7 linked regions of the Homo sapiens genome follow. The protein of the gene in region 1 purifies or fractionates together with the protein of each later gene. This does not show direct contact. Each region holds a gene or a part of one and is shown in the gene's direction. Other genes may lie near its edges. The genes, in order: IARS2, GAK, IL22RA2, ASPM, IFT122, STAT2 and GRSF1.

The links.
Region 2: the proteins of IARS2 (region 1) and GAK purify together in Homo sapiens (affinity purification with mass spectrometry; 2 studies listed by BioGRID and IntAct, with this or other methods). This does not show direct contact.
Region 3: the proteins of IARS2 (region 1) and IL22RA2 purify together in Homo sapiens (co-immunoprecipitation; one large-scale study listed by IntAct). This does not show direct contact.
Region 4: the proteins of IARS2 (region 1) and ASPM purify together in Homo sapiens (affinity purification with mass spectrometry; 2 studies listed by BioGRID and IntAct, with this or other methods). This does not show direct contact.
Region 5: the proteins of IARS2 (region 1) and IFT122 purify together in Homo sapiens (affinity purification with mass spectrometry; one large-scale study listed by BioGRID and IntAct). This does not show direct contact.
Region 6: the proteins of IARS2 (region 1) and STAT2 purify together in Homo sapiens (affinity purification with mass spectrometry; 2 studies listed by BioGRID and IntAct, with this or other methods). This does not show direct contact.
Region 7: the proteins of IARS2 (region 1) and GRSF1 fractionate together in Homo sapiens (co-fractionation; one large-scale study listed by BioGRID). This does not show direct contact.

What each region holds. Positions count from the first base shown.
Region 1 is NC_000001.11:220,135,632-220,139,131, forward strand, and holds part of IARS2 (isoleucine--tRNA ligase, mitochondrial precursor), read left to right. Parts: intron 1-1,177; coding exon 1,178-1,280; intron 1,281-1,532; exon of another isoform or gene 1,533-1,635; intron 1,636-2,286; coding exon 2,287-2,412; intron 2,413-3,376; coding exon 3,377-3,500.
Region 2 is NC_000004.12:922,317-925,816, reverse strand, and holds part of GAK (cyclin-G-associated kinase), read left to right. Parts: intron 1-3,500. UniProt on the Homo sapiens protein: Associates with cyclin G and CDK5. Seems to act as an auxilin homolog that is involved in the uncoating of clathrin-coated vesicles by Hsc70 in non-neuronal cells. Expression oscillates slightly during the cell cycle, peaking at G1.
Region 3 is NC_000006.12:137,170,845-137,174,799, reverse strand, and holds the start of IL22RA2 (interleukin-22 receptor subunit alpha-2 isoform 1 precursor), read left to right. Parts: upstream 1-1,155; 5' UTR 1,156-1,387; intron 1,388-3,955. UniProt on the Homo sapiens protein: Isoform 2 is a receptor for IL22. Binds to IL22, prevents interaction with the functional IL-22R complex and blocks the activity of IL22 (in vitro). May play an important role as an IL22 antagonist in the regulation of inflammatory responses.
Region 4 is NC_000001.11:197,094,670-197,098,169, reverse strand, and holds part of ASPM (abnormal spindle-like microcephaly-associated protein), read left to right. Parts: intron 1-2,005; coding exon 2,006-2,172; intron 2,173-3,500. UniProt on the Homo sapiens protein: Involved in mitotic spindle regulation and coordination of mitotic processes.
Region 5 is NC_000003.12:129,474,724-129,478,223, forward strand, and holds part of IFT122 (intraflagellar transport protein 122 homolog), read left to right. Parts: intron 1-1,591; coding exon 1,592-1,783; intron 1,784-1,939; coding exon 1,940-2,078; intron 2,079-3,292; coding exon 3,293-3,495; intron 3,496-3,500. UniProt on the Homo sapiens protein: As a component of the IFT complex A (IFT-A), a complex required for retrograde ciliary transport and entry into cilia of G protein-coupled receptors (GPCRs), it is required in ciliogenesis and ciliary protein trafficking.
Region 6 is NC_000012.12:56,353,608-56,357,107, reverse strand, and holds part of STAT2 (signal transducer and activator of transcription 2), read left to right. Parts: intron 1-529; 5' UTR 530-536; coding exon 537-667; intron 668-822; coding exon 823-976; intron 977-1,304; coding exon 1,305-1,400; intron 1,401-1,575; coding exon 1,576-1,665; intron 1,666-1,756; coding exon 1,757-1,832; intron 1,833-2,244; coding exon 2,245-2,330; intron 2,331-2,493; coding exon 2,494-2,642; intron 2,643-3,500. UniProt on the Homo sapiens protein: Signal transducer and activator of transcription that mediates signaling by type I interferons (IFN-alpha and IFN-beta).
Region 7 is NC_000004.12:70,815,891-70,819,390, reverse strand, and holds part of GRSF1 (G-rich sequence factor 1), read left to right. Parts: 3' UTR 1-3,500. UniProt on the Homo sapiens protein: Regulator of post-transcriptional mitochondrial gene expression, required for assembly of the mitochondrial ribosome and for recruitment of mRNA and lncRNA. Binds RNAs containing the 14 base G-rich element.

The sequences.
Region 1 (3,500 bases):
TTACAGGCGTGAGCCCCCACGCCTGGCCCTTTTACATGTTTTTGTTTCTTAACATGCGTTTTAAAGACCAGTAAAAGGGCAGATCCTATTTTTTTCAAATTGTCTTTTGAAAATAATTTTGAGATGATAATCTGCTCTTTTTAAGACATACTTTTTCCTGGTTTTATTTTTTCATTTAAAATTTTTTTTTTTTTTTTTTTTTAGTGAGTTATATAGTTTTTCCGCTATCACCACAAGAGGTTTTATAACATTTCCAACACACTAAAAAGTTTTCTCATGCCCATTTGTGACTAATCTCCACTCCCACCCCAGGGCCCCTGGCAACCACTGATCTCCTTGCTGTCTCTGTAGTTTGCTCTTTCTAACCTGGTTAGTTTTAATGATAAAATCAGTACATAGCAGAAGCTCAGAAAATAATCTGTTTAGTGATGAAAATATCTAAAGTTTTCCTTTGTGTAAGTCGAGAGTTAACTGTTTGACTATTGTGATACATGAGCTAAGAATGACTTTTTTTGTTTGAGATGGAGTCTTACTCTGTCTCCCAGGCTGGAGTGCAGTGGAACGATCTCAGCTCACTGCAATCTCCGCCTCTTGGGTTCAAGTGATTCTCATGCCTCAGCCTCCCAAGTATCTGGGACTACTGGCACACACCACTATACCCAGCTAATTTTTGTATTTTTAGTGGAGACAGGGTTTCACCATGTTGGCCAGGCTGGCCTCGAGCTCCTGGCCTCAAGTGATCTGCCTGCCTTGGCCTCCCAGAGTGTTGGGATTACAGGCGTGAGCCACTGCACCCAGCCGAATTTGACTTTTAAGGAAAGGTTTCGGCCGGGCAGGGTGGCTCATACCTGTAATTCCAGCACTTTGGGAGGCCGAGTTAGGTGGATCCCCTGAGGTCAGGCGTAGGTAGGAGAATCCCTTGAACCTGGAAGGCAGAGGTTGCAGTGAGCCGACATCATGCCACTGCACTGCAGCCTGGGCAACAAGAGTGAGACTCCATCTCAAAAAAAAAAAAAAAAAAAAGAGAAGAAAAGAAAAGAAAAGGTTTTATTCATAATCAGTCAAGAAAAATCATATTTTTGTGTCAAACTTAGATACTCTTTTTAAGCTGTACCTAATCTTCAAAAAGATAATTATAATTGTGTTTATCATTAAAATAGCTGATTTGTCCCTTTAGGACAGTGATTGTTCATGGATTTACCCTTGGAGAAAAGGGAGAAAAGATGTCCAAGTCTCTTGGGAATGTCATTCATCCTGATGTTGTCGTTAATGGAGGACAAGTAGGTGATTCTCTAAAATGTATTTTATTTTCGTTTTAAGGATCTTAAATTGGCAGCCAAAGCCCTTAATATAGTTACTTCAATGTAAAAATAAAAACTATCTTTTATACTCTCAAATAACACATGATTGTAATGAAGAAGGCAGAGGCTGGGATTGTGGTCCTTTTAACTTATTTCAGGCCTGACTCTCCAGTTAGGTCCCAAACCACGCTGTTTCTTTTTTAATTGTCTGAGAGCCTTTAAAATGTGTAGATCCTTTTGTGATTCGTAAGCGTGATGATTGGGTTTTCGCACTATTGTGTGAGGTGTGCCTCCCTCAAACCTTGTTACAGTGTTGGCACATTGCTGTCTGAAGTGAAAAAAGAATATGTAAAGTGTGATTGTGTAGTTAAATGGAAATGATGAAAAATGAGATTGCAACTTCAAAATGCGCATTTCATTATTATATTGTTGAAAATTATACACTTTAAAGCAGGTCCTAAATGTACATCAAATCTGAGGTTGCTGATAATTTGGGGGGGTTTTTGGAGCTGCTTTTGTGAATTAAATCATTTGTCTGTTTTTTTCTATTTTTTAACTCCTGTAGCTTTTTACTGCCCGCCTAACATCCTGTAACCGTTCATTGTTTTGTGTACAGAGTTGCTAGGAAATAGTGAAAGGAAAAGCAGTCCTTCCTCTTCCCCTCCCTTATTATAGAGACCTCCCTGGCACTGCTGTGTGTCTAACCACCAGCTGTAATAGAGGAAACAGACATGACCAGGGAAGAGATTAGGTATGAGCATTTGTGCATTGAACAAGATTGCAGAGCACGCTCTTTCTTTTTCCAGTTTTGTTTTTAGATACAGTCTAATTTGAGATTGTTAGCCCGCATTTCATTACAGTGCTAGTATAGTTTGTACTTACATTGTGCTCAAAAATATCTGAATAGGAGCTTTACCTAAAACATTTGTTCGGCTAATTGGAATTGAAAGCCATTGTGTTTATATATTTTTTTCTCAATGAAAAGGATCAAAGCAAAGAGCCTCCGTATGGTGCTGATGTCCTTCGCTGGTGGGTAGCTGATTCCAATGTCTTCACCGAAGTTGCAATTGGCCCATCCGTGCTCAATGCTGCCAGAGATGATATTAGCAAGGTTAGAACTATTATTCTTCCTATTTCTAAAGGACAAGTTTGTCAAATCATTGTTTTAAAAAATGAGACACATTTTGTTTGGAACTGAAAAAAACTGAATGAAAACGAGTTCTTCATTTATTGTGAGATTTTAAGAATCTCCTGTGTTGGCCAGGCATGGTGGCTCATGCCTGTAATCCCAGCACTTTTGGAGGCAGAGGCAGGTGGATCACGAGGTCAGGAGTTCGAGACTAGCCTGGCCAACATAGTGAAACCCTGTCTCTACTAAAAATACAAAAATTAGCTGGGCATGGTGGCATGCACCTGTAGTCCCAGCTGTTCGGGAGGCTGAGGCAGGAGAATCACTTGAACGCAGGAGGCGGAGGTTGCAGTGAGCCGAGATCGCGCCACTGGACTCCAGCCTGGCGACAGAGCAAGACCTTGTCTCAAAAAAAACAAAAAACTCCTGTGTAAATTTATTTGTTTCAAAACATTGGTAGTAATACCAGTAATTTTATATAATTTGTATATAATATCCTTTATATTTTATTAATATATAAAATGTAATATAGCATAGTATAGATTATATTAATTTTGTATACTTTTATGTACTCAATAACCTTTCACATTTTTCCATGTATCTTTATTTCATTGTGAAGCAAGTGAAATAACATTATTCTGACCCACACACATGAATAAACTGGGCTACTGAAAGGTGATTTGCCCCAACGTAATAAAGAAATATAATGAAAATTCAGTCGTTAGGCGTAAAATCCAGTGGTTGTTCCTATAACTGGGCTATTGGAATAAGAGTTTGTTGTGTACTTTTTGTTTTTTATTTTTTTACATTTGTAGTCTTATTTGGAATGATAATAAAAATACCCCACTAAGAAAATGACAAGAGTTAGTAATAAAATAACTTTTCAGTGAAAATTGAAGGCACCATTAGATTTTTTTAACTGCATATTTTTTCTTCCTATGAATAGCTTAGGAATACACTTCGCTTTCTTTTGGGAAATGTGGCTGATTTCAACCCAGAAACAGATTCCATCCCTGTAAACGATATGTATGTCATAGACCAGTACATGCTACACTTACTGCAGGATTTGG
Region 2 (3,500 bases), on another chromosome or scaffold:
TTCCTCACGGCTCTGCAGGCTGGAAGTCCAGGCGCAAGGCGCCGGCAGATCTGGTGTCTGGTGAGGTCCAGCACCTTCTCGCTGTGTCCTCACAGGGCAGAAGGGGTGAGGGAGTGCTCTCTGGGGCAGTAATCCCAGTCCTGAGGGCTCCACCTTCATGGCCTAGTCACCCCCAAGGAGGCCCCACCTCCTAACACCATCACCTTGGGTATTAGGATTTCACACAGGAATTTTGGAGGGGACACAGATTCATTCTGTAGTGTTGTGAATTATGTGTGTATTGAAAATGTTGGTATGTGGTATTTTACGTTAGAAAAGTGTCTGTTTCTTAAAAGAGGCCGAGTTGATTAAAAAAGATACTCAGATCTGCCTGTAGTGGTCCTGTACTGACCTCACTGTCCCCCGGCACTCTGTCCCGTCCCCAGCGTGCTCCGTGCATCCTACACGCATCCTGGTGAGAGGTGTCCTCAGCCCTTTGCATGGACGCTGGTGGGCTGTGTGGGGGAAGGTTGCCCAGCTCTGCTCATGGGGCCTGCAGGCTGCTCGGGGGCACCAGACTCTAGTGTCCCAAGTCCTCAGAGTGTCCCCTGGGGGTTTGTTTTATTTGGACATTTTGATGGGTTTAAAAAGTGTCAAGCTTTGATTTGTGCCTTTCTGAGTAGCGAGTTTGGTAATGCTTATTTGCTGCTCAGCCTCCCCTTCTGGCATTGCACATTCATATCCTGTGCCTGTTATTTTTTTATTCTTATTTTTTTGAGATAGAGTCTTGTTGTGTTGCCCAGGCTGTAGTACAGGGGTGTGATCTCAGATCCTGGCAACCTCCTCCTGAGAGCAGCCCCCGGGCAGAACTCCACCCCCATGACCCAATCAGATCTCACAGGAGAGCACTCACTATCCTGAGAGCAGCCCCTGGGGGAACTCCACCACCACAACCCAATCAGATCTCACAGGAGAGCACTCACTATCCTGAGAGCAGCCCCCCGGGGGAACTCCACCCCCACGACCCAATCAGATCTCACAGGAGAGCACTCACTATCCTGAGAGCAGCCCCGGGAGGAACTCCACACCCATGGCCCAGTCAGATCTCACTATCCTGAGAGCAGCCACGCCATGGGGAACTCCGCCCCATAATCCGGTCACCTCCCACCAGGCCCCTCCTCCAACATTGAGGGTCACAAGTGAACATGAGATTTGCATGGGGACGCAGATCCAAACCGTATGTGCTGTTATGAATAAAGATCCAAACCGTGTCCGCTGTTATGAATAAAGATCCAAACCGTATCCGCTGTTATGAATAAAGGTGCCGAGAACATTTTTTTTCAAGTCTTTTTGTGGACGTGTGTTTTTCTTTGTCTTGGGTAAAAAATACCAAGGAGTAGGATTGCTGATTTACAGGTTGGATTTAGGTTGAACTTCACATGAAACAACCAAACCTCCTTCCACGGTAGCTGCACCATTTTACATTTCCACCAGCTGCAGTGGAGAGTTCCTGGCTCTCCACTTCCTCACCAGCATTTCTTGTGGTCTCTCATTTTGATTACATCCATTCTTGTGAGTGTGCAGTGGTGTCGATCTCATTGTGATTTCATTGGAATTTCCCTGATGATGATGTTCAGCAATTTTTTTTTTTTTTTTTTTTTGAGAGGGAGTCTTGCCCAGGCTGGAGTGCAGTGGCTCCATCTTGGCTCACGGCAAGCTCCACCTCCCAGGTTCAAACAATTCTCCTGCCTCAGCCTCCCAACTAGCTGGGATTAAAGGCATGCACCACCATGCCCAGCTAATTTTGTATTTTTTAGTAGAAATGGGGTGTCACTATGTTGGTCAGGCTGGTCTCAAACTCCTGACCTCAGGTCACCCGCCGGCCTTGGCCTCCCAAAGTGCTGGGATTACAGGCATGAGCCACGGCGCCTGGCCTTTTTGTCCATTTTTTATTGGGCAGGGAGTTTCTGCTTACTCTGGATACAGGTCTTATGTTTATATATTTATATAATTTATGTGAGAAAGAGAAGGCAAGCCTTAGCTGTGGTCACTCTGCTGTCCCAGGCCAGGCTGCCTCAGGGAACCTGGGCCTTGAGATTTGACCTGGCTTGAGCATTTGATGTCTCTGTGCCTCCACTCCCCACCCCTCCACTCCCTGCCCTTGAGATGAGGTCTTGCTTTGTTGCCCAGGCTGGAGTGCAGTGGCATGATCACAGCTCACCACAGTCTTGAACTCCCGGACTCAAGCGATCCTCCCACCTCAGCCTCCCAGGTAGCTGGGACCACAGGCACGCACCACCACGCCTGGCTAATTTTTAATTTATTTCTGGTAGAGATGGAGTCTTGTTATGTTGCCTGTAGGCTGTTCTCAGAACTCCTGGGCTCAAGTGATTCTCCCACCTCGGCCTCCCAAAGTGCTGGGATTGCAGGTGTCAGCCACTGTGCCTGGCCTGTGCCTGTTCCTTAATTGGCAGAGTGTGTGCTGTAAAATGTATATAACAGGGTCTTGGAGGTACCCGACATGCCATTCTTTAATGTCTTATACGTTACTATTATTTTTAAATAAACTGTATTATTTTGAGTTCATTGTAGGTTCCCACGCGGCTGTGAGAAAAGATGGAGATCTTTTCTATTTTAGACCCTTGCCTGGTTTCCCCAGTGGTGACGGTCGGGATGCTAACCCTGGTGCAGGTGAGGCTGTGGAAGTCTCCATCCCCGTAGGGAGCCCTCATGCCACCTCTCAGCCACGCCATTTCCTTACCCTCTGGAAACCTCTAGTCTTTGCTCTGTCTGTGATTTTGTCATTCGAAGGATGCAGTGTAAGGGGAAGTGCAGAATTCTTCAGGTAATTGTGTGTCAGTAGCTTGTTTCCCGTGGTGAGACTCCTCTGCGTGAGTGTGCACGGCTTGCCCAGCCAGCCACCCGTGGAAGGACATCTGGGCTGTTTCCTGTTTTGGCTACTACAGATAAAGCTGCTGTGACACTTGCGTATAGGTTTTTGTGTGAATATACGTTTTCATTTCTGGGATAAATGTTTAAGAGTGCAGTTGCTGGTTCATGTGTGGTAATTATGTGTTTAGTTTGTTAGAAAACTGCCAGATTGTTTTCTTGAGTGGCCATACATTCCCACCAGCAATGTAGGAGCGTATCAGCCTGGTTAGGCTGCCATAACAAAATACTCCAGACTGAGTGGGGAGCAGTAGAAATTCACTCTCGCAGTTCTGGAGGCTTGAAGGCCAAGAGCAAGATGCTGTCAGTGCTGATTCCAGGAGAGGCCTCTTTTGCTGGTTTGCAGATGCTGCCTTTTTTTTTTTTTTTTTTTTGAGATGGAGTCTCGCTCTGTCACCCAGACTGGAGTGCAGTGGCGCAATCTCAGCTCACTGCAACCTCTGCCTCCTGGGTTCAAGCAGTTCTCTTGCCTCAGTTTCCTGAGTAGCTGGGACTACAGGCGCCCACCACCATGCGCCGCTGATTTTTGTATTTTTAGTAGAGACGGGGTTTCACCATGTTTCCCAGGTTGG
Region 3 (3,955 bases), on another chromosome or scaffold:
ATCAAACAATACATACAAACATACTGGTGCATGGGCATAATGATTGATGATATCTGGTAGGGGTTTCAAGGTGACCTTGGGTGAAGAATAATCAAAGCTACATATTGGGTACAATGTACATTACTCGGGTAAGAGATGCAATAATATCTCAGACTTCACCACTGTGCAATCCATCCAGGTAACCAAAAACCACTTGCACTATTGCACAGCTACTGAAATAAAAAAAATACATATTTTTTAAATGTTACCACTCCTTTATGTTTTGGTTTTCAGAAATAAATTTTAAAAAATTTTTTAAAGAATAATCAAAGCAAAATCAATAGCATCTTTTATCCAGAAAAATAAGAGTGAAGAGCAGGAAAGGTTAACCTCATTAAGCCCTATGTCCTATGAGTGGAGATTTTAAATAATATATTAGTGATCACAGTCCAAAAACTCAGATTAGTCATTGTGCTTATCACCTGTGTTTGAATAACAATGTTTCTTTTTCTTTTCTGAATTCAAGTTCACAAACCATTTTGAATTTTTGCATGCCAATTATTTCCAGAATGCCGAACTGCTTAAAGGACATGAATATTACTCGGTGGAGCTATTAATGTCCCAGCAAATAAGAAAGAACAAGTTGTTTCCCTGTTGTTGGCTCTACAGCTCTATAGTTTTCCAGAGAGGGAGAAGGGTGGTGTTCAGATTATCATTCATGATGAAACTTTTAAAAGATGCTCAGCTGCCCACCAAATCATAGGATGAAGGAAAGGGCCTAGCAGAAACACAGTTGCTCTGACTTCCCTTCAATGGACAGCACCAAAGTCATACTGAACACCAGTTTTTAAACACTTCTCTGAAAAACAATAAGAAACACTTAGCCCTTTGCTACCAAGACCTGGTTGAAGAAAATGCTGTTGGTTCCCTGAGGGCTGGCTCTGTAGTCTTGTTCATTTCTGCATCCCCGATGTCTAACACAGTGCCTGGCATATAACAGTTGCTCAATAAACATTTGTTTGACTGAATAAACGATTCGAGAAGCCAATGGACAAATGTTCTTTGACATCATTCTATCCCTTTATGGAATGTCTATTACAAGCAAAGAATAACACAAGAGGAGTTTCATAATACTCCTCAGGCCCTGAGGCTAACCAGATCTGATTTCAGCCCTCACTTTACCACTACTCGCTATAGAGCCCTGGTCAAGTTCTCTCCACCTCTCTATCTATGTCTCAGTTTCTTCATCTGTAACATCAAATGAATAATAATACCAATCTCCTAGACTTCATAAGAGGATTAACAAAGACAAAATATGGGAAAAACATAACATGGCGTCCCATAATTATTAGATCTTATTATTGACACTAAAATGGCATTAAAATTACCAAAAGGAAGACAGCATCTGGTAAGTAAACTTTATTTATTTATTTATTTATTTTTTTGAGATGGACTCTCGCTTTATCGCTGCCCAGACTGGAGCGCAGTGGCGCGATCTCGGCTCACTGCAAACCTCACCTCCTTGACTCAAGCAATTCTCCTGCCTCAGCCCCACTGAGTAGCTGGGATTACAGGCACACACCGTCACGCCTGGCTAATTTTTGTATTTTTAGTACAGACGGGGTTGCACCATGTTGGCCAGGCTGGTCTGGAACTCCACACCTCAAATGATCCACCCACCTCCGCCTTCCAAAGTGCTGAGATTACAGGTGTGAGCCACCGTGTCTGGCCACATCTTGTAGATAAACTTTAAAAATCTTTTTTCTTTGTTATGAACAATTTTAAGTACATACAAAAGTAGAGTATAATAAACCTGACACCCAATTTCAACAGTTATCAGCTCATGGATGGTAACCCCCTTTCCCAGGCCTTTGTATTATTTTGAAGCAAATCCCAGACATGACACCATTTCATCTGTAGTACTATAATAGGTAGCTCTAAAAAAAAATAAAAATAATAACCAAAATTCCACATCACACCTAAAAACAATGAAAAATGATTCCTTAATTAGATAAATGGTTGGTCTGCTGGAAGCCACAAGAAGAAAGGAAGAAGAGAATCAAATCTGTTCAAGACAGGGGCTTAAGCAAGTTCTCTCCAGAGTCAACACGATGATGGAAATACCCGTTGTCACCGTCAAGGTGGACTCTCCCTGCTGCGGAGTGGGGCCGAGGTCGGGGGAGGGCAGGGAATGAAGCCAGCATTTCATGCCTGAAAGGAGGCAGAGCGGAGATCCCCTAGTGACTAAAACTTTCTTACTTCCCAAACAAAACAGCATTTCATTTGAAACAATTCTGTACAAATTCTTCTGCTTCCAGATTGATGGGAAATTAGAATTTAATTTTATCTTTTCATCTACCTTGAGGCCTTGTTGACAGTGTTGGCTTTTATGCAGGTTCTATTACACAACTAGAGCTAATTGAACAGTGACAGAACTGGTCTGGTTTGTGAAATTTAATAGAGCACCAAAGCTCACGTTTTGGGGAGAATTCAGTTCTTAAATATGTTTTGCTTATCCCACTCCGCCTAATTTCCCCTCATTTGTTTGACAAAGTCAGCAACCCAGTGGAAACCTCAATTTCGTTCTCTGCTGCTCTCATCATAAAACCTCGAATTTAAATATTTTCCTTTTATTCTTAGCTGGAACTTGGAGCAATTTGGTGGCTTCAAAATGAGATCTATTGGTATTGAAGCCATTGAACATCAATAGTGCAAACCCACATTATCATCCCCCATTTAAATACCAAAGTAAATGTGAAGTGGTAAACATTAGCAGGGAAGTGAATAACAATGCTGAGAAGGTTGCAAGCTAAGGAGCATGAAGAGGTGAAAAGGGAACATAAAACGTGCTGCATGTTTCTTCTTTCAAAGCAGAAGCTACCTTATAAGCACCAAAAACTTCAGCTGGAGGAGATACAAGCCTGGATTCAGAAGACTGCCGTAGAACAGAGGCACTGGGAAACCTGATGTTATCCACACAAACCTTTCCACATAGGGCTGGCCTCAGAAAGCATGCAGCGCAACTGCCCTCCAATAACTGAAATTTGTTAAATGAAAATTGATAGTGGCCTGGTCCACTGGGATCTGGTTTCTGAGGAAATTTCTGATAAGCTCTCTTCTAAGACCCTTTGCTCAGGAATAAGGTTTTCCCTGCGTGGCCCCAGCTCCACCCAAGGCCTCACAGTCTCAGGCACCCGAGTGTCTAGAAATGTTCACAGGTGCTGGGTCATGGGGTTGGGATGGAGGGTCTACACTTGAGAACAACTCCTCTGCTCCTGTCTGTATGCAGAAGGCCATTCTTCCCTTTCTCTTTGAAGACTCTGCCTCCTCCACATCAGCAGCACCCAACCCTCTCCTTTTAGCACTTTCATTTTACCTGCTTCCCCTCCTACATTCTAGTCTTGGTTAATGGTTGTGATGGAGGGTGGGAGGCAAAGTGGCTTTGCAAGCCGGCTTCTGAAACTTTTCATCTCCCATTTAAGAAGGAGAAGAAAAAGACAGAGAAGGTTAGATGAATAGAAGTTGTAACCCTGCTGTAGCTCCTTATTCTCTACTTTTCCCTTGAGAAGCAAGCTTAAGGAAGGCAGGGGCAATGTCTCTCTTATCTGCTGCTGCATCCTTGCTGCTGAGACTAATTCCTAGTTTATGGTAGGACAGCAAATATTTGTGAAATGTTATTGGATAGCTGCATGGATGGATACTGCTTAGCAGCCATCATTATTCCTTACTAAAGGAGCTATTCTACCAAGAACTTGAAAGAGACTATACAAGAGAAAATAGAAACCAGTATACATTTCCCCTTTTGATCTAAAGAGCCTCTCTTTTTAACAACAACAAAAAAACCTTTATGACTTGCGGAGGCTGAAGCAACTTCATTTTTAGATGCTAATCTGCCATGTTGACTTCTGATTAATCCTTTTTCAGGAAGGCTTCTAAGATTTCTAGTTTATCGATTGTTCCTTGTATGAGAACACAT
Region 4 (3,500 bases), about 23 Mb from region 1:
TTGGGATTTAAGCACACTTTGTTTCTTCTCTCAACCCTTGGTTTCTTGATACCATAATCTCTTAGCTGTCTTCTTTCCCTCTTAACGCTATGTTGGCTTCTCTTGTCAATGTCTGTAAATTTTGATGTTCTTCAGGTGTGATGTGTGTGTGTGTATATATATATATATTTGTAAATATATATATACACACACGTATATCTATACATATATATAATTTTCTCATTAAAACTTTGTTTTAATGGGTCTCAAAATTCTGTGACAGATTTTCGGTCAATTTGTTTTCATTAAAAAGTACTGATTTTAAAAACTAGTAACTTATAACTGCCACAAGCAAAACAAAAACAAAAACACCAAAATGGTCCACAAAACATTCTCCTTTCCTCCTGAAGGTTTTATGATGCAGTGTTACCATTAACCAGTCTTTTACTGTTACAGTTAAATGGCCAATTGAAACAAACAGTTCTGAGACCATTCTTCTACCACTGATTAAGACTGAGGTGGCAGGTATTGGGGATATACATAAATAATGTATGCAGATTTACATAAAAACCGTATACAATATAGTCTGAATGAGTTAAGGTCATCTCAGAGTAATTTTGGCCATATATAATTATTGCATTATCAACTGAATTTAGAACCTAATCTAAATATACGTTGTGCCTATAGTATTTGTTGTGCTGCGGGATAATTAAGGAATCAGAGAGACCGAGGGATTTGAGGAGGAATTATTTAATTATTTATGTGCACCGACCCAGTCGGATTAACATCCAAAGAGGACTGAGCCCTGAACAAAGAGTCAAGCTACCTTTTAAGCATTTCGTGGGGCATGGGGAGATCTGTGCAGGGGGAAGCGTATTACAGAAGAGAGAAACAAAGACAGTTATTCAAGTAAGAGATGCATTACATTATTTCTTACTTTTTAAGGAACAACATGTTTTACAACTTGAGATTATCTGTCTAGTGTCCTTGCAGCTGCACAGCTAGAGAAACAGTCTTCACAATGCCTGGGAAAGGGAGAGATAAGGCTCACTAGCCACAGAGAGAAAAACACAGTTAATTTTAAAGGACTCCAGCCCTTTCTCTTCCCAAGGGGAATTGGGTTTTCTTACATACAACTGAGTTTTTGCTTACACAGTCTTTAATTTCTTTTAATTCCTCTTCCTGTAGGGATGTTGGAGTCAAATAGACTTGGGTTCAAATCTTGACTCTGTCACTTAACAGCTATATGCTAACAAGTCCTTCTTAATTTCAATTTTGGATTTTTTTCCTTTTTTATAAAACAGAGATCTTAACCATTTTATAAGATATTTATAAATATTAAGTAAGACAACTCTGCCACTTATTAACCTGTGTGACATCAACAAGTTACTCAATTTCTCTAGGCCTTGATTTCCTCATCTCTAAATTAGAGATAATAGTATTATCTACCCATGTGATTATTAAGGACTAATCTTCTTAGTGCTTAGTTCAATAAGTTGTAGCTGTCATGTAAACCTTTAGTCTTCCAGAAGGTTGTCAAAATCAGAAAGTCTGACAGTCCTATCACAGGAGCTCTCAGGATTCTCCTGCAGGCTGAACACAGAACCCAAAGTGAATATGGATTGGGAAGAATTCCTCTTTCTCCCCAGAACCTGCAGTAGGTCAATGTGTTCATTTTCTTTTCTTCCAAATGGATTGAGGTGATGAGGATAATTTACATAATGTGGGGCTTTTCAGACATGTGTGTCTTACAATTTATAAATACTGGTTAGGGTTTTGTTAGGCTGGGCTGGCAGCCAGCCATAAGGTATGTGTGATAAAGCACATAATACGTGTTCACTATAGTAAGCACCACTGTTCTCAGAAGACTCATTACATGTCAAAGTCTAAAAGAGTCATGATATGACTATGCAATTTATTTTTGTCTGCACTAACCTTATTTTAACTGTCTTTATACTGATTTGTCTTATTTACAAAAAAAAAGAGACAACTCATTGCATACTTGTTATATTTATGTATTTAATAGGCTATGTGGAGGAGATATAGAGCCAAGAAATATTTATGTAAAGTGAAAGCTGCCTGCAAGATTCAAGCCTGGTATAGATGTTGGAGAGCACACAAAGAATATCTAGCTATATTAAAAGCTGTTAAAATTATTCAAGGTTGCTTCTATACCAAACTAGAGAGAACACGGTAATGTATCATAGTTCTGTGGAGAGTGTAAAAGTATTTGTGTGTGATAGCTAAGTCTTTACATAAAATAACACTGCTTATTGATTTTTATTTTAAATATTTGTTATGCTTAATTTATATGGTTGGTTTTGTTGATATTTTCTTTATTAAGGAAACAAAATACATCTCTCGTACTGTCTTGCTTTTTTGAGATAGAGCATAGCCTTTAATTAATATAATCTAAAAATATTATATACTTGATTAATTCAGGTTCATAAGGATTAGAGTAAGGACAGAGACGTAGGAAGTGAATAAAATCATTTAGTTAAGACTTGGTTTTCTTATTAGTGCTTTGGGCCATTTTGCTGGGTGACTTAACTACTGGCAAAATTTGTTTTCTTACTCATTCTTTTTTTCTTTGAACTTTGTATTATTCCTCATACTCTTTGTCATTAATGATGAAGACCCTAATTACCAACCTGTCTATGCTAATTGTATTTCACTATTCCTAGCTTATTTCTCACACACACATTTTCAGAAGCTGTTACCAGATCATCTTTTTTTAAGTTCATAGTATAAGAATTTTTCTTCAGCTCCCAGAGTTGATGAATTATTGAATCAATGATGGTTTTAAAGATGGTTTAGGAAGGCACACTAGTGTGAGAGGAATTTTTGGATGAAGCCCATGGGTAGAAGCAGGGCTTAACATATACAGTTGATCGCATGAAGATAGAAGTAGAATGTTGGTTACCAGAGGCTAGGATAGGGAGAGGGGAGGGGTGGATAACGACAGGCTGGTTAATGGGTACAAAAATACAGTGAGAAGGAATAAGATTTACTGTTTAGTAGCACAATAGGGCAACTATAGTTAACAATAATTTATTGTATATTTCAAAATAACTAGAGGAATAGAATTAGAAGTTTCCTAATAGAAGGAAATGATAAATGTTCGAGGTGATGGATATCCCATTTACCCTGATTTGATCATTACTCATTGTGTGCTTGAATCAAAATATCACATGTACTCTGTAAATATTTACAACTATTATATATCCATAAAAATAAAAATTAAAAAGCATATAAAGATACAGTTGCTACTATCAGCTATTAAGGACCAGTATCTAATTTTCCTGTAACAGATGCTGAATTTTTCTCAATGGTGTTTGGTCCTATTTTCTAAGAAACATGGCAACAAAACAAGCTACTCATTGTACTTTTTCCACATTATCAAGAACAGAGTAGAAAACCTGTCCATTCTCACATTTTATCTCTTAGTATTATGTTGATCCCTAAAATTTAATCTCTAGTGCTCAGATTTTTTAAAATTTTTCTCCAGTTCTGTTTACGAA
Region 5 (3,500 bases), on another chromosome or scaffold:
CTGAGCTCGGGAGTTTGACCTGCATCCTAGAAGCTGAGGAAGCACCATCAAGAAAGAGAAAAGACAACCCACAGAATGAGAGAAGTTTTACAACTCATATATCTGATAAAGGACTTGTATCTGGAATATATAAAGAGCTATAAAGACAGGGCTGGGCATGGTGGTTCACACGTGTAATCCCAGTGCTTTGGGAGGCAGAGACAGGGAGATCACTTGAGAACAGGAGTTCAGGACCAACCTGGGTAACAGTGGGACCCCACCTCTAAAAAAATATATTTTTAATTAGCTGAGTGTGGTGGTATATGCCTCTAGTCCCAGCTACTGGGGGTGGTGAGGGGCTGAGGCAGAGGAATTGAGCCCAGAAGTTCAAGGTTGCATTGAGTTATGATCATACGACTGCATTCCAGCCTAAGCCACAGAGTGTGACATTTCTCTGTGGCCAATAAGCACATGAAATGATGCTCCATATCATTAGCCATCAGGAAAATGCAAATTGAAACCACAATGAGATAATTCGCACTCACTAAAATGGAGAAATTGGAATCCTCATACACTGCTAATGCAAATATAAAGTGGTGCATTCACTTGAAAAGTGTAGCAGTTCCTAAAAAAGGTTCAACGTAGAGTTTAAAAATAAAAAAATATAGGCCAGGAGCTATGACTCACTCCTGTAATCCCAGCACTTTGGGAGGCCAAGGTGGGTGGATCATCTGAGCTCAGGAGTTTGAGACTAGCCGGGACAACAAGGAGAAACACCGTCTCTGCAAAAAATACAAAAATTAGCCAGGCGTGTTCTCACACATCTGTAGTCCCAGCTACTTGGGAGGCTGAGGTAGGAGGATCACGTGAAGCTGGGAAGTGGAGGTTGCAGTAAGCCAAGATGGCGCCACTGCACTCCAGCCTGGGCAACAGAGTCAGACCCTTTTTCAAAAAAAAAATTTTTTGCCAGGCATGGTGGCACTCACCTATGGTCCCAGCTACTTAGGAGGCTGAGGCAGGAAGATCGCTTGAGTCCAGGAGTTGAAGGCTGCAGTGAGCCGTAATTGCACCACTGCACTCCAGCCTGGGTGACAGAGTGAGACCCCATCTTGAAATAAACAAGAATTAAAAAATGAAGAGAAGTAGTATGGGTGTAGTTGCAGAATAAAGGACAGTCTTTAAACTGAATAAACTCAGCTTTATAAAATACTTTTTTAAAAAGGCGGAGAAAAGAAGCTGAGGGAACCCATTGAACTATAGGAAGAACTATATTTGCAGAGGGAGGGGGGCCTTTGGGAACAAAACCACCCACAGTCTCCATCTTGGCGGAGGAGCCCTGACACACTCCTGCACTCCTGGAGCACTTGGGTGGGACTAGGGGAGGTGCCACTGACTCCAGGAGCTGAGGTTTGGGCTGTGTAGAGGATGAGTAGGGAGATGCAGAGGCAGAGAGGCCTGTGTTCACCATGGGATGACACAGGAGAAAAGGCTGGCCAGCTCTCCCTGTCTTCCCAACTCCCTCTAAAGTTGGCGAGAAAAAGCCCTTAATTGTATTGCAATGGTTATGGATTCGGAAATGGTTTTTCCCTTGCTGTGTGTTCTTTTTCCTCAGATTGGAAAGGATCGGGCACTGAACTTTGACCCCTGCTGCATCAGCTACTTTACTAAAGGCGAGTACATTTTGCTGGGGGGTTCAGACAAGCAAGTATCTCTTTTCACCAAGGATGGAGTGCGGCTTGGGACTGTTGGGGAGCAGAACTCCTGGGTGTGGACGTGTCAAGCGAAACCGGATTCCAACTATGTGGTAAGAAGAGAAAGTTTGTTCTGTGGGGCCATGGCTTGAAGAGGCACTGAGCAGCCGCCGTGTCTCGAGTCACATCACTGGGGTTTGTGTCTGACAAATGGGGGAATGCAGACTTTCTCCAGAGAGCTGGGAATTGACAGTTCTCTCACCCCGCAGGTGGTCGGCTGCCAGGACGGCACCATTTCCTTCTACCAGCTTATTTTCAGCACAGTCCATGGGCTTTACAAGGACCGCTATGCCTACAGGGATAGCATGACTGACGTCATTGTGCAGCACCTGATCACTGAGCAGAAAGGTAAGAGGCAGGTCCAGACCTTGGGAAGAGGGACAGGTGGAAGCAGGTGGAAAGGGCTGGTGACAGGGCACTTGAAATGACAGGAAAAGGTTTCTCTTTGGCGTTTTGCAAACCTGTTAGCCACTGGGTCTGTGTCTTGTTTTCTTTTTTTTTTTTTTTTGGTGGGGGAAGTAGGGATGCCAGTCTCCTTGAGGATCTCATGAAAGCAATAAATCCTCTCTGAAAAATGTACCAACTCAGAATTTTGCACATAATTTCAAGGAGTACATGAATTTCCTTAGTGAGGGAGGATGATTTATGACAGGTTGGAGCCAGGTGGTTGACCTGCATGGGTCTTCGTGGACCTTTATCCTTTCTGGTCAGAGTCACTCTGGGGTGCTTCTCCCTCAGCCCTGTCTCCACTTGCCTCCTGGTGGGTCCTTCTGCCAGAGATGAGCAGTGGAATTGGATTGGCACAGGCTAGGTCAGAAGATCAGAGTTCCCGGCCTCGCATAGTCATTCTAAGCCCTAAGACTGCAGTCTCTCCCTCTGTCCACTTAAGTTGCTGTGCTGGTTAAATAGACTCAATCCACTTACTTCAGGTGTATTCATATCTGGATGTGCTGGCCTTAGTGCACTGCTAGGTGCCTTTGCAAGGGATCCAGGTTGGGGGTTGTCTTGTAGATTCAGATGAGTGTCCTTTGGTCCCCCTGGGGGACCCTATCTTTTTGAAGATTCTGGCTGTGGTGGTTGGGGCAAAGCCCCTTGGGCAGCTTCACAGTGTCCCCCTTAGGGACATTTTCTCCACCTGGTCTGTAGTGGGAGTGTAGAGCCTGGTGTGTACCAGAAATTACATGTCTTCCCCGTTTGTCAAGGAGGTGGGCAGGGAGCGGCCAGAGGTGAGGTCAGTTACTTAGGCAGGCTTCTGATCACCGGGGGCCACTAGTGCTGTGCAGAGGAGTTTATATTTGTATCCAGCAAGTGATGGTAACAGTGAGTAGTTTATTTCCATACTCAGTTGTCAGCCTTGGACCATGAAGATTGTGTCCTATAGGACTTTGGATCCCAGGGTTCAGCAGAGTTGATTGTATGTATTAGATACTCTAAAGATTTTTCAATGAGAGTATCTCACTTTAATTGCCAGTAGCGCTAAGTAAATGATGGCTTTTAATTTCTCTGCCTTGCACCTTACATAACAACCTCTTGCTAGAACTAGATATTTTTTTCTTTGACAGTTCGGATTAAATGCAAAGAGCTTGTCAAGAAGATTGCCATCTACAGAAATCGATTGGCTATCCAACTGCCAGAGAAAATCCTCATCTATGAGTTGTATTCAGAGGACTTATCAGACATGCATTACCGGGTAAAGGAGAAGATTATCAAGAAGTTTGAGTGCAACCTCCTGGTGGTGTGTGCCAATCACATCATCCTGTGCCAGGTGGG
Region 6 (3,500 bases), on another chromosome or scaffold:
CCAAGATCATGCCACTTCACTCCGGCCCAGGCAAAAGAGTGAGAGTCCATCTTAAAAAAAAAAAAAAAAAAAAAAAAAAAATACAGATTAGGCATTCCTAATCTGAAAAATTTGGCTCCAAAATGCTCCAGTGAGCATTTCCTTTGAGTGTCATGTGGGTGCTCAAAAAGTTAGATTTTGGACCATTTCAGATTTCAGAGTTTTGGATTAGGGATGCTCGACTGGTAAGTAATGCAGATATTCCAAAATCTGGACAAATCTGAAATCCAAAATGCTTGGAATAGCAGATACTCAACTGGTAGCACTCCCTGGAAGAATATGCACCAAACTGATAGCAGTGGTTACTTCTGGAGAGGAGGGGAAAGAACCAAGATTAGCAGTAGGATCAACATATATTTTAATGTTTTCTGTATTTTTATTACTTGTATAATTTAAACATTTTAAATTAGTAATAATGAACAATCATGAAACTATGGATGATTTAGTCCAGCAAAATATCCAATTGGGAACCCTCATCCTTCTGACGCAGAGCCCAAATGGCGCAGTGGGAAATGCTGCAGAATCTTGACAGCCCCTTTCAGGATCAGCTGCACCAGCTTTACTCGCACAGCCTCCTGCCTGTGGACATTCGACAGTACTTGGCTGTCTGGATTGAAGACCAGAACTGGTGAGGCCTTCAGGAAGTTGGGGGAATGAAAAAGGTGGTTCCTTACTTCTGGGCCCCCGGGATCCTGGAATCATTAATGGCAGGAAGGGGTTGGAAAGCCTCAGGACTACAGTAACACTGCAGAGACACTAATACTTCTTATTCCTGGTGCCCAGGCAGGAAGCTGCACTTGGGAGTGATGATTCCAAGGCTACCATGCTATTCTTCCACTTCTTGGATCAGCTGAACTATGAGTGTGGCCGTTGCAGCCAGGACCCAGAGTCCTTGTTGCTGCAGCACAATTTGCGGAAATTCTGCCGGGACATTCAGGTACTTGGAACGGTTGGGAGTGATGGGGTAGCACTGGGAGCTGAGCATAGAGGAGTAAGGTTTGGAGAATAGAATAGTACCTGGAGGTGGAAAGGGAGACGGGAACAAATGTGGGGAAAGGAGGACAGAGTCTGGACTTGGGGAATCACTAGCAGAGAGAAGGGTTGCATATACGTGACACTGTTGGGAGGATGCTATGGTGAAAAGACAAAGGGCTAAGAACCCCGAAGGAGGAGGAAATACTGTGGACATTGGTGGGGAGGGTCTAGGGCAATAGGTCATTGAGAGTGGTTGAATTGGATCAATCCTTTCTGTTTACCTATTCTAGCCCTTTTCCCAGGATCCTACCCAGTTGGCTGAGATGATCTTTAACCTCCTTCTGGAAGAAAAAAGAATTTTGATCCAGGCTCAGAGGGCCCAATTGGTGAGGACAATTCAGTGGTAATGTTGGAAACTCCTGAAGTAGAGAGGAACCATGGAAAGGACTCAGGGAGTTGTCTCAGAACAGGATCCCCCCGACATCCTGTGGTATAATTTCAGGCCTGAACTTAAGGCATGAAAGGCCAGAGTTAAAACGTGCTCAGAGCCTCTTTTTTCAGGAACAAGGAGAGCCAGTTCTCGAAACACCTGTGGAGAGCCAGCAACATGAGATTGAATCCCGGATCCTGGATTTAAGGGCTATGATGGAGGTTAGTAGATGTGGTAGGAGTTAGGGTTGACAGCGTTCAGCCTAACACCTCCCTGAGAAGCAGCCTCATCGGGGTCCTCTCCCCTCTGCAGAAGCTGGTAAAATCCATCAGCCAACTGAAAGACCAGCAGGATGTCTTCTGCTTCCGATATAAGATCCAGGCCAAAGGTAGGAAGCACATTGAGGGGCTGGAGAAAGATAAGTGCCTGCTGAGAAGCCGGAGCTGGAAGTGAACAGGAGAAAGCTCCGATGAGCAGTAGTCACTGTCAGACACACCCCACTGACTACAGTCCTGCTGCCGTGCAAAGCTGGAAGTGCTTTGTGGAGGCTGAGCTGGAGGTGCAGCTGAGAGACAGTAAATGTTGAGGAAATGCATGGAAAACTAACAGTGTTTTATTTGAGGGGGTGTCTGGTCCAAGCATGACCATTCAGAATTTGCCTGAGGGTCCCACAGGTGCCTGTGCTTTGCTTGGTTTCCCTTTCTTCCTCCACAAAATTCCTCCTTCCTGACTCTGACTGAGACCCCAGTCAGGAAGGAGAGGAAAGAACCCCTGGACTGACTCCTGTTCCCACCATCCAGGGAAGACACCCTCTCTGGACCCCCATCAGACCAAAGAGCAGAAGATTCTGCAGGAAACTCTCAATGAACTGGACAAAAGGAGAAAGGTGGGAGACAGAGGACAGAACATGTGGGCAACAAGGACCTGGAAAAATGAGGGATGTGGGGACCCTGGTCCTCTAGCGCTGGCTTCTTTGTTTCTTCATCCCCAGTTGGGTGGTGGAGGGTGAAAGGGAGAGATGCTCAACACTCACATTATCTCTTTCCCAGGAGGTGCTGGATGCCTCCAAAGCACTGCTAGGCCGATTAACTACCCTAATCGAGCTACTGCTGCCAAAGTTGGAGGAGTGGAAGGCCCAGCAGCAAAAAGCCTGCATCAGAGCTCCCATTGACCACGGGTTGGAACAGCTGGAGACATGGTGAGAGGTACCACCCCAACCCTCGTCCTCGCCATGCGCTGTGATTTGTAAGTTGCAGTGCCCTGCATATAGCAAGAGATACTGTTCTCTATTTGTCTCTGCTCCCCAGAATGAGCCCTGCTCCCTGCTGACTGCAGCTCTATTCTGCTCCTCATCCTCACCACGCAGGGAGCCCAGAGCCCAGTCTCCTTCAGGGAAAGGAATGAATTAACCCACAATCTGGTTTTTCCTTCTTTTTTAATCACCCAGAAATATATATATATGTATTTTTTTTTTTACTGCAACGAATACAATGACAAGAAAGGAAGGAAGGAAGGAGGAAGAGAAAATTACCTATTACCTAGCTTATTAAACAAAAATGGAATCATATTGTCCATACTATTTTGAAATCCATGGGGTTTTTTTTAAGCTTAACAGTATTTTTTATATATATATATATATATATATATTTTTTTTTTTTTTTTTTTTTTGAGACGGAGTCTCTCTCTGTTGCCCAGGCTGGAGCGCAGTGGCACGATCTCAGCTCACTGCAACTTCCAACTCCCAGGTTCAAGCAATTCTCCTGTCTCAGCCTCCCGAGTTGCTGGGATTACAGGCACACACCACCATGCCTGGCTAGTTTTTTTGTATTTTTAGTAGAGACGATGTTTCTCCATGTTGGCCAGGCTGGTCTCAAACTCCTGACTTCAGGTGATCCACCCAACTTGGGCTCCCAAAGTGCTGGGATTACAGGCGTGAGCCACCATGCCCGGCCAACAGTATATTATATTTATCCATGTTATTTCTTATGTCCACACAACAGTCCCCTATATGGTGGTAACATAATTTAATTAATGAACTCCTATTTTCAGCTATTTA
Region 7 (3,500 bases), on another chromosome or scaffold:
AGCTTAACATCATCAGTAGTACTGCCTAGATGGAAATGCGTTTTCATATATGGTTGAATATGCCAAGCTATGAGAACTGGTATCTGTAGTTGTACGAACTATTAGAATGTGATCTTTGTTGCTCTTTCACATTTGGTATCTGATTTGCTGTGGAAAAGATCTGTGGGGCCTACTGTGAGGAATTCATCTGCAATTGATTTAAGCTAATGAGTTTTATTTGCACATCTCTGGAAAAAGAATGCAAGCAAAGCATTAAAATGCTATATGATGGATGGGTAAGGTTGAAAGGATATATCTTCTTGGCACGCTACAGGCTGAGTTTTCTGTACAAAATGTGGCCATTATTGGGAAATCATTTTATGTATTTGAATGCTCCCTTTTGTTTTTGTTCATGATCTAGGCTAGTACGTAAGTGATTGCTAAGGTGGATGTAGTTATGGGAAAGGAAGAGAAGCACATAATACAGTAAAAGTAATCTTATTTCCATGCAAGTGGAAGACGGTACCGTCTCCCCACATTTGAGAAGACTGTTTTGCATCACTCTTTGCTATTGAAGGAAGCAGTGATGGTGAATTTCCTTCTGTTTGGGTTCCTTGTGTCTATAACTTCCTTTGTGGTAAAGCCATCAGGAAGAATAGTGGGAGTGGGGCATATGGTCAGGGTGCTCATATCCTGCTTTAGCCTAGCTGCTGCTTACGGAGTGCAAGGGAGAACTCTGAGAAGCAGTATGTAAATACCAGGGAGCTGATTGCTGAATATTGTGGTCTCATCTGAATATTGTGGTCTCATCTAAATATTGACACCAGGCAATGAAGCAGAAATAGAGTATGTGTCCCTTTATGCGTGGGTAACTTAAGCTTCTGTCATGTGGGAAGGGGGACCGAATCTTCCCTGGGAGGAAGGCTCCAAATTCTCACTACTTCTGTGTTACTTGAAGGGGGAAGCATAAGGAACCCAGTTTGAAGGCAACATTGTGTGCCATGAATCTGCTTATTAATCAACATGCCTTGTTAATGTCCTCTGCCCTGAACAGCCCTTACTCAGTTCTCATTTGGAAAGTTATTTTTTGGGGTTACATCCTGTTTGTTTCAGAATTTAAAACCCTCCATGGTGGGTCACTTGAGGTCAGGAGTTCAAGATTAGCCTGGCCAACTTAGTGAAACTCCGGCTCTACTGAAAATGCAAAAATTAGCCAGGTGTGGCACACGCCTGTAATCCCAGTTACTTGGGAGGCCAAGGCAGGAGAATCGCTTGAACCTGGGAGGCAGAGGTTGTAGCGAGCCAAGATCACACCATTGCACTCCAGCCTGGGCAACAGAGTGAGACTCTGTCAAAATCAAAAAAACCAAAATACAAAAAACTCCATTGTTCTGAGAGTTTCCCCTAAATTATCGGAAGACACTCACATTGAATTGGTAGGACCTATAGTATAGAGGAGAATGGTATGTATGTCAGCAGTAGAGTTCCAATCCAAATTGCGCTATCGCATTAGAAATACATTACCCTCCCACTCCCCAAGTTCAGCAAATTAGAAGAGAATCTGAAGTTTGTAGGAAGGGAATAAAGCTGCTATAAACATTTATGTGCAGGTTTTTGTGTAGACTCGTTTTCAGCTCCTTTGGGTAAATACCAAGGAACCAGGTTGCTGGATTGTAAGTTAAGAGTATGTTTAGTTTTGGAAGAAACTGCCAAACTGTTCCAACATGACTATTTTGAATTCCCATTGACAATGAATAAGAGTTCCTGTAGCTCCTCACCCTCATTAGTATTTGGTGATGTCACTCTTGCATTTTAGCTAATGGGTGAATAGTGGTCTCATCGTTTTAATTCCCAATCCCATAGTGATGTGGAGCACCTTTTCATATACTTAATCTGCCATCCTTATATCATCATTGGTGAGGTGTCTGGATTTTCTGTCCAGAATTTTAGTTCTAGTGGTTTTCTTATTTTTAGAAAGGAAGTATAGGAAGGAAGGTTTAATCTGTCTTAAGCCTGATTATATGAAAATCAAGAATAGGCTAGGTGTGGTGGCTGACATCTGTAATCCCCGCACTTTGTGAGGCTGAAGTGGGAGGACTGCTTGAGCCTGGGAAGTCAAGCCTGCAGTGAGCCATGACTGTTGCTGCACTCCAGCCTGAGTGACAGAGTGAGACCCTGTCTCAGAAAAAAAAAAAGCAGGCTCATTTTAAAGTTGTTTATATTTTATTTTTTGAAGGAAATAAACTTGAAGAGATACAAACGGTAGTGAAGATTCTCCTTCCCCTCCTGTAATTCAGCTGTTTAGTTTCTATTCTCGCACAGCCCTGTTATCAGTTTCTAGTGTAAGCTTGCAGTGACTTTTACTTTATTTATAAGCAAGTGTTAGTGGGTGTTGTCATTTCTTTTAAAAATATAAATTATACTGTACATGCTATTTTGTATTTTGGCTTTTCTCCCACCTAAACACCCTAAAGATCATTTTCTGTCAGTATATAAAATCTTGGTGATGCCAATACCCATCCCTTAGATTGTACAAGCAGCATTTTGCCATGCTTTATCCCATAGCCTGCCTCCTGCAGTCTCATCTTTTTTTCTATATGCATGTCCAAGTAAGTTGTAGACATTTTTCACTTTTAATCCTTTCAGCATACATGTCATGGGAATTTGTTTTTGTTTTTGTTTTTTGTGTTTGAGACAGTCGCTCTGTCACCCAGGCTGGAGTTATAGTGACGTGATCCCAGCTCATTACAGCCTCCACCTCCCAGTTTCAAGCAATTCTCATGCCTCAGATTCCCGAGTAGCTGGGATTACAGATGTGCACCACCACGCCTGACTAATTTTTGTATTTTTAGTAGAGATGGGGTTTCATCATGTTGGCCAGGCTGGTCTGGAACTCCTGGCCTCCAGTCATTTGCCTGCCTCGGCCTCCCAAAGTGCTGGGATTACAGGCATCAGCCACCACACCCAGCCGTCATTGGAGTTTTTTTGAGGGAGATTTGCAGTAAGGTGAATAAATGTTAAGTGTATCATTTGATGAGGTTTTTTCTTTTTTTTTTTTTTTTTTTGAGATGGAGTCTTGTATCGCCCAGGCTAGAGTGCAGTGGCCTGGTCTTGGCTCACTGCAACCTCCACCTCCTGGGTTCAAGGGAGTCTCCTGCCTCAGCCTCCCGAGTAGCTGGGATTACAGGTGTGAGCCACCATACCCAGACTCATTTGATGAGTTTTGATGTAAAAGCATGTAACTCAAACCCCTATGTCTGGAACATCTGTATTACATCTGAATTTTTTCACCTAGTCAATTCCTGCACCTCTCTCTCCTGTCCCTTCTTCCCTCCCCTGGCAGTCAGCTACTGTTAGGATTTTGTTCACTGTAGATTAATTTTGCCTATTCTAGAACTTCATATAACGGACTCACTTATGCAGTATGTATTCTGTAAGTTCCTTTTACTCAGCATGTTTGTATGTTCATCAGTGTGTTTAAGCTTTGTTCCTTTTTATGGCTGAGCAGTGTTCTATGTATG